Linked DNA regions of Homo sapiens: all the other regions are linked to region 1. Evidence: fine-mapped expression QTL. A gene starts in region 1. Each other region holds a variant in brackets. All regions are shown on one strand. Distances are between the middles of the regions.

Region 1 (4,218 bases):
TGCGCATGCCCCTTTTCCCCATGGATCCAGACCCTTCGCTCACACGCTGTTTGGCATAGTTGAGCCCGGGCTATCATGTTTAAAAAAGGCACAGGCGCAGGGGGTGATACTCAGTCATCTGAGCTGCTAACAAAACACGCAAGCATTACTAGTTGGGGAGCTGACTTCGCCTCTCTCATATTCAGCTTGCTTGTCTATAAAATGGGGGAAGTACCTCACCCTTCACAGAGCTGTCAGGGAACTGGTGATAACGTGCACACACTGTGCCAAGCAGGTGCTCAGAAGTATTGCTCACGCAGATGGATGCTTCTGTTGCAAGTTACTAGTCAGGAATGGTCTGAGAGGCCCTGAGACACCAGAGATCTCTTACCTTTGTATATGCCAGAGGATGGGACAGACACACCCAAAACTGTCCCAGTTGTTAATTCCGCTTGTCCCCTGGCCCTGGTCCATCGTCCCTTTCCCGGAAGAAAAAGCAGCACTCCACTCTTGCTAACTAACACCTACCCAGCCTCACCCCTACACAAAACACAGCTGGCTCAGTCCAGCCAGGGATGCTCCTCACCGGACAGACATCCATCAGCCAAATTTCCACATCAGAATTTCCTGGAAAAGGGTGACCACCCGAAGAACTCCCAAAATACGTATCTATCCCAGGGCTTCAAGCTAGAAACAAGGAGGCCCCTTGCTTCTCATGTAAGAAGCAATACGTTCGCTTTCTTTTACATCCGAATCTCGGGAAAGGAACTGGAAAAGCCAGGGCAGGGCACACCTGAGCCTCTCCTACAAGTAGGGTATCTCCGGATTCTCCAGATACAGAACCAAGAGGGTTCCTGCAACATACTCTGCTGACAGCCCATGAAAGCTCATTCCAGCAGCCCCTAAACTTTGCTCAAATGCTACTGATGCCTTTAGGAGAGATTTTGTTGTTCTCTGGACCTGAAAGCAATCTAATGTACTTTTATAAGGCCAGGCTCTTGCTGACAATGTTGCCACAGGATACATCCTCAGGCGGACTCACCCTGTAACCATTTCACTTCTTTCTTTCTTCCCCCCGCCCCCGATGAATTGCACTGAGCATTCTCAGTCAAAATTTGCTACTTTCTCTGTGAAGTAGGTCAAGAGTTAAATAATAAATAAATTCAGCCTCCATGATTTCTTCCGGCAGTGTTTTACCAGAATGTTTAGGAATACTGACACCATTGAAGGTAACTGTTAATTTAGTCTTTACAAGAATCCTGGGGGCAGGCGGGCTTCTAGTAAAGGGGATGTCCTGGAAGGTCACCCCCCCACACACAAAGGACTTTAGAAACTTCGGGTCTCACTCAGGCTGTGACTGCGAGCTCAGTGATTAGAGGACAGCCTGTCACATAGACAATAAACAGCCAGCCGCCTTGCCTCAGCAGGTCCTGTGCAGCCCTGGGGCCAGGCCAGAACCCCAGGAACAAGCCACTTTCGGGTTCTGAGCCTTAGCCTCGGGGAGCTGGACCAGGGGAGCAGGCAGTGGCGGGGGGTGCTACGGCACCCCAGGATCAAGCCTGCTGAGGGGGCTCGGGCTGGTGGCCAGCAGGCTCGGCTGACCAGCAAGTGGGTGGTCCCGAGGCGGCCAGGCAGCCTGACCCAAGGCAGCACGACCGTCCACGGGTCATCAGGCTCTAGACTCCGGGGTGGAGACGCGGGGCTGCGGGACCGAGTCGGTGCCACTTTCTCGCACCCCTGATCCTCCGTGCCTCTTCCCAAGACCGCCAGACCCTTCACCGGCCCCTGCCACTGCCGGGAACGCTCCCGCCTGCTCCTTAACTCACACAGGCAACAAGTTCTCGCTTCCTCAGAGCAGCCACGGTGTGCTCCGGAGGCCCGGCGCAAGGTGGAAGCTCCCCGCGAGTCCGCGTTGCCCACGCCCCGAGGGGCGCCCGCTGCCGTCGCTGCCCCCCAGGAGCGTGGAGCTACAGGTAGCGCCGGCAAGGGCTGCCCCCCGGGGCGCCCCTCCGACCGGGACGCTGCGGCATCCCCGGAACGGGCAACAGGTACGCGAGCGCACCGAGGACCGCAGCCCCGGCTCCTACAGCCCCGGCCCTCGCCCCTTACCTCCAGCAACTGCACGTAGCTCGCCGGGAACCAGCCACGGAGCCCGTCCTCCTTCTCGCCTTCCCACCAGCCGCCGTCCGGGACCTGCAGCAGCGTGATCAGCTCGCCCGCGGCGAAGCGCAGCCCCTGGCCGTGCCGCTCCCCGGAGAAGGGGTACAGGGTCCGGCAGCGAGCGCCGGACATGGCCTTGGCGCCCGGGTTCACAGCGCAGCCTGCATTCCCGCCGAGCCCCACGGGCTGGGCAGCGGCTCCGCGGGGTCCCAGGCGCCCGGCGCTCCGGGCTCCCGCGCTCTGGGCGCGCGCCGTCTCTGGGGTGCGCGGGGGTCCTCAGGCAGGCGGGGGACGCGCGCTCCGCGCCGGGAAGCAGAGACTCGTTGGCTTCGCAGAGCGAGCGGCGACGCCCCCGGGCCGGGCAGCTCGCGGATCCTAGCTCTGGGCTGGGGGGCGGGGCTCAGGGGGAGGAGACCCAGGCGCCGCGGGCTCCGGAGACAACTTCCCGGGAACGCGGAACGCGGGCTGCCGCCGCGAGGGCTGGCCGGGGCCGGGGCCGGGACCGGGGCCGGGGCCGCCCTGGCGCGCGGAAATGCGCAGCTCCCCCGGGAGGTGGGACCCGGAGCATCCCCCGCGGCAGGACTCCGCGGCGGGCGGCCGTGGAGAGGAGCTGGCGGCCGGGTGGCCGGGCGGGGGTTAGCTCACTGGCGAGGGGGCGGGCCGGGGCGGGGCCAGGGCGGCCACGCCCGCGGAGGGCTGCGCGCTCCCTCGCAGAGGGGCCTGTCACTGGGGAGAGGGGCTCCCACTCGCGCCCCCACCGCCGGGGACCGCGGGAATGGAAACGCCCCTCTGTTCTGTGCCTGCTTTGTAGGCCTGGCGGCCCGTGGCGTGCGGGCGGCTTCTTCGAGGTGTCTGCGAGGGATCGTTTGTGGTTGTCATTGTAGTGGTTGAACCTGGGGTTGAACTTGTCTCACCGGAAACTGAACAATGGGTGAAAGACAGGTTTGAAGCCTGGCGCCTGAGCCCAGCAGCCTGGTGGCAGCGTGGCACGCTGGAGGGACGGAATGGAGAGAAGACGGGGTCGGAGTTGATAGAATTGGAAACAGTCGATGGGGATAAATGGAGGAAAGGCGAACGGTGAGAGGAACAGCACCAATGCTTTTACTTGCAGAGGGAAGGCCGGCCCAGGGTACCAGCCCTCCCGAAATCGAGATGGGTTGGCTAAAGAGTCTACACTCATGTAGTCAGTCAACAAACATTACCAGGAGGCTGCCATGTTCCATGCGATGTGCCAGGTACTACAAACATCATTTGGGCCAGTCCCTGCTCTCCAGGGACCAGTGAACCTGAGTGCTGCAGAATGTTGACCTTGAACTGACCGTACAGAAGTAAAAGAAAGCTTGGTTTCTTTGCTAGTCTACTCCATAAAAAATTTTAAAGAAATAAAATAAAGTACATTTTTTAGCCTGTAAATAGCTGGACTCGGCCAGGCGCGGTGGCTCACGCCTGTAATCCCAGCACTTTGGGAGGCTGAGGCGAATGGCTCACTTGAGGTCAGGAGTTCAAGACCAGCCTGGCCAACAAGGTGAAACCCCATCTCCACTAAAAATACAAAAATTAGCCGGGCGTGGTGGCGGGTGCCTGTAATCCCAGCTACTCAGGAGGCTGAGGCAGGAGAATGGCTTGAACCCGGGAGGTGGAAGTTGCAGTGGGCGGAGATCATACCACTGCATTCCAGCCTGGGTAACAAGGGTGAAACTCCGTCTCAAAAAAAAAAAAAGCTGGACCCTTTAATACGCCTGTATACCTCTGTCTACTCCTTCCCCCCTCCCCCAGTCACCTTCTGTGGCTCCCTATTGCCTTTTAAATTTGGTACAAACTTCTCTGCCTGTACATTTCAGGCCCTCCACAACGCCTCCTCTAGCTTCACCTCTTACTATGACTGCCTAGATATCCATTACAAAACCAGTCAGGCCGGGCTCCAAGAGCCTGAAGATCTTGCGCACCTGTCTATGCTTTGAATCAGACCCTGGCACAGAGCCTTTCACCTAGTTCAATGGTTCTCAATCCTGGCTGCACATTACAGTCATTATGCAACTTTTTAAAAATACTCATGCCCAGGTTTTAAGAGTCACTACT
Region 2 (4,218 bases), 83 kb before region 1:
AGCAGAAGTGTAAGCTAGAACAGTCTTGTTAGAGGCAATCTGGCCCTTTCTGTCAAAACTACAAACACATATATTCTTTGTTCCAACCTTTCAACCTCAGAAACTTGCCCTTCAGAGACCCTCACCCACGTGCAGAATGATGGATATACGAGGCTATCCACAGCAGCAACAGGTAAAGGTAACAGAGAAAGATTAGAAGCAACCTTTATGCCCATTGGTGAAATGAGTGGGGCAGGCATTAAACAGGAGGAGGAAGCTCTTCCTATTGACTAAACTCCAAGATATGTTATATGATTTAACAAAAAGCATCAGTAGCACCAGCAAGGTGCAGAAGTATAGAGGGGATACCTGTGTTCAGAAAACCACAGAGATCGCATTTTTCCGCCCCCTACAACTTGTGCCTCTCACTTCCCGACACACGGTTTCCTGGGTTAAGGAAAATAAAATGAAACATATTTGGAAATTCCTGGACTACTTCTGGAAGTACCCACAAGAAACTGATCACTTGTTTGCCACTCGGGAAGGGAACTGATAGGTTGAGGACAGGGATGGGAAGGAGACCAACTTTTCACTCTACGTTTTTTGTACCTTTCAGATATCAGACCTGAGCATATATTACCTATTTGATAAGTATAAAATTAACAGATATACTTTTGGGTATACATACTGACCAAACATACTTCTGTCTCTTTTGTTTCTCAAGATAGGGTCTTGCTATCTTGCCCAGGCTGGAGTGCAGTGGTGTGATCACAGCTCACTGCAGCCTCAACCTCCCGGGCTCAAGTGATCTTCCTGCCTCAGCCTCCCGAGTAGCTGGGGCTACAGGCATGCACCACCACGCCTGGCTAATCTTTTTTTTTCTTTCATTATTTTTTGTAGAGATGGGGGTCTCCCTATGTTGCGCAGGCTGATCTCAAACTCCTGGGCTCAAGAAATCCTCCTGCCTCAGCCTCTTAAAGTGCTGAGATTACAGGCATGAGCCACCATGCACTTTTCCGTCAATGCTACAGTCTCACTGGGAAGGAAGCCAGTGCCTGCCAGGTGAGTGGGCCCAGGTTACCAGAGCACACAGCCCTGTGCTCCCAAGATGCAACAGGCCCCTCGTTGTGCCCTGCCCTGCAATCTGGTTCTTCAGAAGAGGAGTTCCCAAATACCTGGTCCTCTGCAAATCTGAGCTGTAAACAAGCCTTGGAAAGGTCCTCCCCTTACCTAAATCCCAGCTTCAGGGTCCCGTTTCTGACTGGGGTGCCACCACCAAAGGCAGGGTATACACAGCCACCGAGTGATCCTCTGCCTGCTTCTCACTCCAGGGAAGAAAATCAAAGCAGGTCCCATGGCTGCCGTCTGATAATCACTATGGACACCACACACCAGCCAGCATCAGGGCTGTGTCCAATTAGCCACCCCCATAACAACACCATAGCAACAAAGGTAATATTATTGTTCTAAAGAGAAGAGAAAAACCACACACACACACACACACACACACACACACACACACTGTGTTGTGTGACAGCTTTGAAAGCCACAGAGATCGCATTTTTCCACACCCTAGAACTTGTGCCTCTCACTTCCCGACACACAGTTTCCTCAATGAGAAGTCACAGGCTTGGGGCAATCTCCTCTTCACGCCATTCCAAGATGCGTGTCCTTCACAGGAAACTGGCATGAGAATGATTCTCTGGCAAGCCAGGAGTCAGGGCTGCCTCCTCGCTCTGCCTCTGTGGCTGGCAGGGCTGGGCCAGCTGCAGACCAACAGGCTGGGGGTCATGCTCCAAGCTGTCCTCTGTCTGTCTGTCTGTCTGGCTGGCTGGCTGGCTGCCTCTCTGTGCCAGACCCAAGCTGGCACTGGGGTTTTGGTGGTTGCATCAATGAGCCACACGCTAATCTCCAGACCTAAATGTGGAAAGCATTAACCCAAATGAAAAGACATAAATTAGGACGGGGGCTTATGGGATGGAGGAAAACAGCTCTTCTCTGAGCGAGAGCCTGGGCTGTTGCACAAGAGCTGAGTGAGTCACCAGCCAGCAGAGGGAAGGACCAGGGACGGAAGGAGGGAGGGGAGCCCCCCGTGGGACTGGCGGGTGCACAGGCGGGGGGAACGCTGCAAAAACACAGCTGTAGGTTCATAACTAAGCACACTTCATCAGCAGTCTGAAGGAGGGTGGGGGGCAAAGTGTCACCTCCTCCCC[A/G]ACTCAGGAAGTGTTGCAACACGTGTCCTCCCCAGAGAAGACAGCAGAAAGAAGTGTTCCTAACTGTTCACCCTTTACAGGCTGCAGCTGTGCCCCGGGGAAGCACACCTCAGCACAGAGAAGGCCTCTCTCATCCCTCCTTGCCCCTTCTTGGCAGTGTCCATACACTTGGGGGTCCCCTAGCATGAGGTGTCCATTGTGGGCACACAACTCTTGCCCATACTTATTACCATTTCTTGTCTTTTCTTCCTTTCCTTTTTCCAAACTCCCCATCCTCCATACTACTGTTGTTAACAACAAGACAAATCCTTTGGTCTCCCCCGCCCCTAGTCCCTGGGGAGAACCTTATACCTTCCCTTAAAACCGTGCCCCACTCACCAACCTCCCCAGCCATGACAGATTCCAAAGCTCCAATATCCAGGCAAATTCTTAGTACCTTCTACGAGTGAGGCACGCTGTCCCTGGGGGTGGCAGTGGAGAGAAGGAGCTCTCCCAAACAGATCATCCAACCAGGACTTCTGAGACTTAGAAGCCCTAGAAATTTGCTCAGCACCTTGGTGGGACCCCTCACCTCTCCAGATCATCATCAAAATGAGGTTGGGTTGGCCGGCCATGGTGGCTCACGACTGTAATCCCAGCACTTTGGGAAGACAAGGGAAGTGAATCATTTGAAGTCAGGAGTTCAAGACCAGCCTGGCCAACATGGCCAAACCCCATCTCTACTAAAAGTACAAAAATTAGCCGAGTGTGGTGGCGTGTGCCTGTGGTCCCAGCTACTCAGGAGGCTGAGGCAGGAGAAGAATTGCTTGAACCCAGGAGGCGGAGGTTGCAGTGAGCTGAGATTGTACCACTGCACTCCAGCCTAGGGGACAGAGTGAGACTCTTGCCTCAAAAAAAAAAAAATGTTGGGTTTAGAGATCAGCTGGGTCCCTTAGACTCTGACAGTGCTCATCTGTAAGAAATGCATGGAACAAAATGAATACTCTCCAGAGTACCTGGCTGCTGCAGGGCTTACCCCGGGGAATGCAAGCTGAAGAAGAGTGCCCTGGGCTGAGCGGGTCTCTGCAACTGGCCGGGCTGCTCACAGCCACTGGGTGCTCAGGAAAGGTGACCAGCAGATAGCACCAGCCGCATCCTGCCAGGGAAGTCACTTACAGGAGAGCTCTTGCGGGTAGGGAGTGGGTCTGAAGTGGACTTAGAGGGCAGCTGGCAGAGACAATGGGAAGAGAAGGTATTCCAGACCAAGGAATCATTCATTCATATTCATTCATTTATTTATTCGACACAGGTTTCTTGAACACCTCTTATACACCAGACGCAGGTTTCGACACTGGGATACATCAGTTAACAAGACAAAGATCCATGCCTCAGGGAGCTTACATTCTAGCAGGGGAGATACACAACCCACAACAAGCCAGACAGACAGGTCAATGATCCAGTTTTGCTGGAAGGTGATAAATGATGAGGGGGGGAAAAGAAAAAACAGAGCAAAGGGGTGGACCTGCCAGAGTGAGTGAGAGACTGAAAGGAGATAAAGAGGTCTATTCATATCCTGAGGCTGCTGTAACAAATTCCCATACACTAACGGGCTTCAAACAATGAAAATTTATTATCTTACAGTTCTGGAGGTCAAAAGTCTGAAACAGGTTTCACAGGGCTAAAGTCAAGATGTCTGCAGGGCTGGCTGGTTCCTCCTGGAGGCTCTAGGAGAGAATCCATTTCTTTGCCTTTCTCAGCTTCTGGAGCCCACCCACTTTCCCTGGCTTTCGGCCCCTTCCTCTCGTCACTCAGCCTCTTGCTTCCAACATCACATCTCCTAACACTGATTCTGGCCCTCCTGCCTCCCTCTCATAAGGACCCTTGGCTTACACTGGGCCCACGTGGATAATCCAGGATTATCTCCCCATCTCCGGTTCTCAACTTAATCACAACTGCAAAATCCCATCTGCCACAGAAGGTAACATATTCACAGGCTCCAGAGATTAGAAGGTAGACATCTTCAGGGGACCATTACTCAGCCCCCACA
Region 3 (4,218 bases), 180 kb before region 1:
GGGTTAGACTGAAATGTACAAAGTATAGAAAGATGTCCACATACACTGTCAAAGTAACTTAAAGGACAACATAGACAATATTTTCCAATTTATTTTAAAAGAATAAGTATACATATGTTTAAAAGGTGAGACCGGGGATTATTTTTTATTTGAAATCATTTTGTACTTACTGAATTTTTTACCGTGAAAACAAACTAGTCTCTAACTTAAAAAAAGATAAAGATGCTGAAATTCAGAAAGCCATTTCCCCCCATGCCCCTTTGCAATAGAGTAGCTTATTTGGGACAATAACGGATCCAAATTATTCATATCCCCTAGCAACCTGACCTTCCAATAATTTGGATCCAATGTTGTCCCAAATAATTGATGATCTCATGATCCTACGGTCCAAATTCTGTGTTTGGCAGATGGGTGTTGCATACATAGACACACTCTCCTCTGAAATTTCAAGTCTCCGGTAACAGTGCAAAGCTGTTCATGTGTTTGTTTTGAGGAAGTGTAAGATTAGAACGGTCAGAAATAGTCCTACTTCCCTTTTCCTAGAAACTTCATTACCTCTTGCGCTAGAACACCCCTCTTGAGCCTGTGGAAGGTCAGGTTGCCAGGGGATACGAATAAACCAGCTGCCTTCTTTGTGTCTCTGCTAAACAGTAGCTGGCTCCCCTGTCACTAGGACCCCCTCCTGGTGCAGGCTTATAAACATCAGCTGTAGTAACGATACCCCCAGGTGGGAAGGGGTGGTCATGTAGTCAGGCAGGCACAGAGGAGTGAGAGGCCAAGGCTGAGCCAGCAGTGGACTTGGGTACGATTTTCATCTTTTGCCTTGGAACGCATGTCTGTGATTCCCACTAAATCTAACTTTCCTTGGTTTAAATCCTCTCAGTTCTCTCATGGCAATTTCTCTGGGGAGTCACGGAGGTCAAGACACAGCTCTGTTCAGCTGGTTTACCCTGTCCTGCCCTGCCCAAGACCACAGCCTGCAACAGTGCCCTTTGCTCACCTTGTTACAGAACCTGCCACGTGGTGCATCCCCTTTTATAAACCATCCACAGCAAACTTCTGGGGATCCTGGGGTCATTTGAAGGCCTGGGAGGTCCCTAATTATTGGGGTCATTGAGGTGTGGTCCTATTCAACTCAGATGCACATGGAACCTGTACTATTTGATGGGATAAATAACCCATAAGCACCCCCGGCATTTCCCAAAAAACATCTGGAGAAATGCCAGCCAGTGAGATACTTAAGGAAAAAGATGACGTTGTAGTGAAATTAGGGAAACCTCGCATTTGCAACCCCTGTATTGAAGCTTCAAGATCATTAAAACCTTCAAAATTCCAAGACATCATGCAGTGACTTTGCCTCGTTCATTTTATTCAAGCCAGCTGTTGACCATAGAACCTTTTGAGACACCCTTCAGAAAACCCAGCCCCAGACGAACAGGTTGGGTTTAACACAGATACCCAGGGTGGACGTCAGGGTCCAAGGAAGACTCAAACCATAAAGGGCAGCCTTCCTTCCAAGATACTCCCAGAACTACAGACCCAGACTTGCACCCCTACCACCCAGCACAGTGGGAGGAGTAAGACTTTACTGTAGCCCCTGAGCATAGACTTAAGAAGAAAAAACCCCCAAACAGAGAGGCGAAGAAGGGAGAAAAAACGTGCCCCTCTAGAGAGCCAGAATGCCAGGGGGTTGGTGCAGGATTCTCCCCCGAGCGGGACTCACCATTGGTGGTCGTGTTGACATAGTACCGCCGGCCCTGAGGCGACAGGTAGCTCTGCCAGCCAGGTGGAAGGATGACCGTCTGGCTTTCTTCTCCCGGCGGAGGGGGGACCATTCCAGGCTTCTGTTGGAGAAGAAAGAAAAGGTCACACCCATTTGGCATTTTTGCAAGAGTTTTTAAACCAGGAAGGCAAAGGCTGATGAATTCACCCTACAGTAGCGTGACATTGGGAAGTCTGCGGCCCATAAACCCCTGAGGTCAGAGGCAGCACACACGTGACCTCCGGGGTTGCGTGAGCATGAGCAGTGAGAAGCACCTGAGCATTCAGAGCCCCTGCACAGAGGACAGCTCCTCTGGGAGCAGAGAGGAAAATGCCATTCAGCTAATGGAGCTAGACTTTCTCCACGGCCCCCTAGAAAATCACTCACGGGGTGCTGAGCTTGCAAGGGGGCCCTGTCACTCCACCACCTCCCATTGTGAAATCTGAAGCCTGAAATTCCCAGACCACGAAGCACAGCAGCAGACAAGGCCCCAGGCTTGCTGTGCAAACCTAGCAGAAGTAATTAATGCAAGTCATCCCACAGCC[A/G]GATGCAAAACATTCTATAATAATGCTGAGAATCCATGAAGAGCTGGATGGAGCTTCTCTCGCCAAGGGTCCAGATCACTCTGGCAAAAAGAACGAGGACTCGGAGACAGAGCAGACGCTGACTTCCCATTGTATGCATTTATGTGCAATTAATTCTTTTAACCATGTATAGAATTACTTTTCGTTAAAAAACAAATCAGAGAAAAATGTATATGACATACAAAGAAACTAGATATCTAGTAGACAGATGCTAAAAAAAAAACAACCATGGCCGGGCGCAGTGGCTCACGTCTGTAATCCCAGCACTTTGGGAGGCCGAGGCGGGCGGATTGCCTAAGCTCAGGAGTTCGCGACCAGCCTGGGCAACACGGTGAAACCCCACCTCTACTAAAAATACAAAAAATTAGCTAGGCGTGGTGGTGTGCGCCTGTAGTCCTAGCTACTCGGGAGGCTGAGGCAAGAGAATTGCTTGAACCTAGGAGGCGGAGGTTGCAGTGAGCAGAGATCGCACCACTGCACTCCAGCCTGGGTGACAGAGTGAGAGTCCATCTCAAAACAAACAAACAAAAATATAAAAACAAACAAACAAAAAACAGCCACGATCCCTGGGTGCTGGGATTACAGGCAATTATTATACTCTCCTTTCTACATATCTGTTCCCCCTAAATTTTCTCCCATAAACACAGAAATAAAAGTTGTTAGCTAAAGAACATTTTAAAATTAGGACAGAGAGTCCAAATTAGCCCGTAAGATTGCTGTGCCTTTTGAAGTAAATTGATTAAAATCAGAATTGTAGCCATACGAAGAGAGTAGCCATGAATTTCTCAGCAAAGCCAGGGGACTGTTCACAAACAGTAAAGGTAATCGGCTCCCAAATGTCCTCAGTATCCCCCAGCTGTGCCCATAGTGGTGGTCCCTGGTGACCCCCGCTTAGGAAAACAAGATAACAGAATGAAAGAGAGCAGCAGAGACACACAGCTCCCAGGCTACTCTCACGCTTTGTGAAGGTTGCAAAACCACGTGCCGTGGCTTCCCGTAGTGCCCTGCATGTCATTGGAGGGAACGAGTAAATCTGAGCTGCTCGGGGACTTTGAGTAAACACAGCCTCCCTTCTGCCCTCTGCGTAGCTGCGGTGTAAGTTTCACAATGCATTTTCACAACTTAATTAAAAGCTTTCCCCTATGCCCTGGACGCTCCATCTCCTACACCTGCTAACCTGCAGTGCCCGTTTGATTCCGTATGGAAGACTGTCTTCTAAGACAGCAGGAGACAGTGAGGTGGACAGCAGCCAGGATCAACACGGTGTGGCATCCCACCAGGGTCGCAGGTTGCTGTCTCACCAGCATGTCCAGTAAGCACAAGCCCACATCTGGGCAGGTTTACCTGGGCCCTCTCACTGCTTTGGACTCTCCAGGATTGGAAGATAGCCAAAATATATGCAAGACAAATAGGATTATAACAACGTGCATGTGTGCGTGTGTGTGCGTGTGCATGCGCGCGTGCATGTTGAGAGAAAGAGAAGTATCCCATGCACAGGAGATGAACATTCTGTCCAATAGGATTAGAAATAAAGTCGGCATGGGTGGGGGGTCAGGGGATTAAAACTGAGGGTTAGGGCCAGGTGCAATGTCTCACGCTTGTAATCCTAGCACTTTGGGAGGCCGAGGTGGAAGAATGGCTTGAGCCCAGGAGTTTGAGACCAGCCTGGGCAACATAGGAAGACTCCGTCTGCAAATAATTTTTAAAATTAGCCGGGTGTGGTGGCATACGCCTGTGGTCCCAGCTACTTAGGAGGCTGAGGTGGAAGGATTGCCTGAGCCTAGGAGGTTGTTGCAGTGAGCTGTGATCGCACCACTGCACTCCAGCCTGGGTGACAGAGTGAGACCCTGTCTCAAAACAAAGAACAAAAAA

The links.
Region 2: its variant is fine-mapped to the expression of GAS7 in whole blood (INTERVAL, PIP 0.99). The same link has a PIP of 0.9 or more in blood mononuclear cells.
Region 3: its variant is fine-mapped to the expression of GAS7 in whole blood (INTERVAL, PIP 0.93).

Annotation. Positions count from the first base shown.
Region 1 is chr17:10,196,120-10,200,337 of GRCh38, forward strand. GAS7 (growth arrest specific 7) reads right to left here and starts at 2,487. Exons shown (of 14, transcript NM_201433.2): 1 at 2,089-2,487. The coding sequence starts at 2,271.
Region 2 is chr17:10,113,233-10,117,450 of GRCh38, forward strand. The region is part of intron 1 of GAS7 (growth arrest specific 7); the gene reads right to left. Among named protein-coding and RNA genes, the nearest start is that of GAS7, 83 kb to the right of the region's middle. RefSeq lists a silencer at 2,022-2,081 and an enhancer at 4,036-4,218. The variant A/G (reference allele first, on the strand shown) is at 2,193.
Region 3 is chr17:10,018,054-10,022,271 of GRCh38, forward strand. It overlaps GAS7 (growth arrest specific 7), which reads right to left. Exons shown (of 14, transcript NM_201433.2): 2 at 1,724-1,844. Among named protein-coding and RNA genes, the nearest start is that of RCVRN, 110 kb to the left of the region's middle. The variant A/G (reference allele first, on the strand shown) is at 2,308.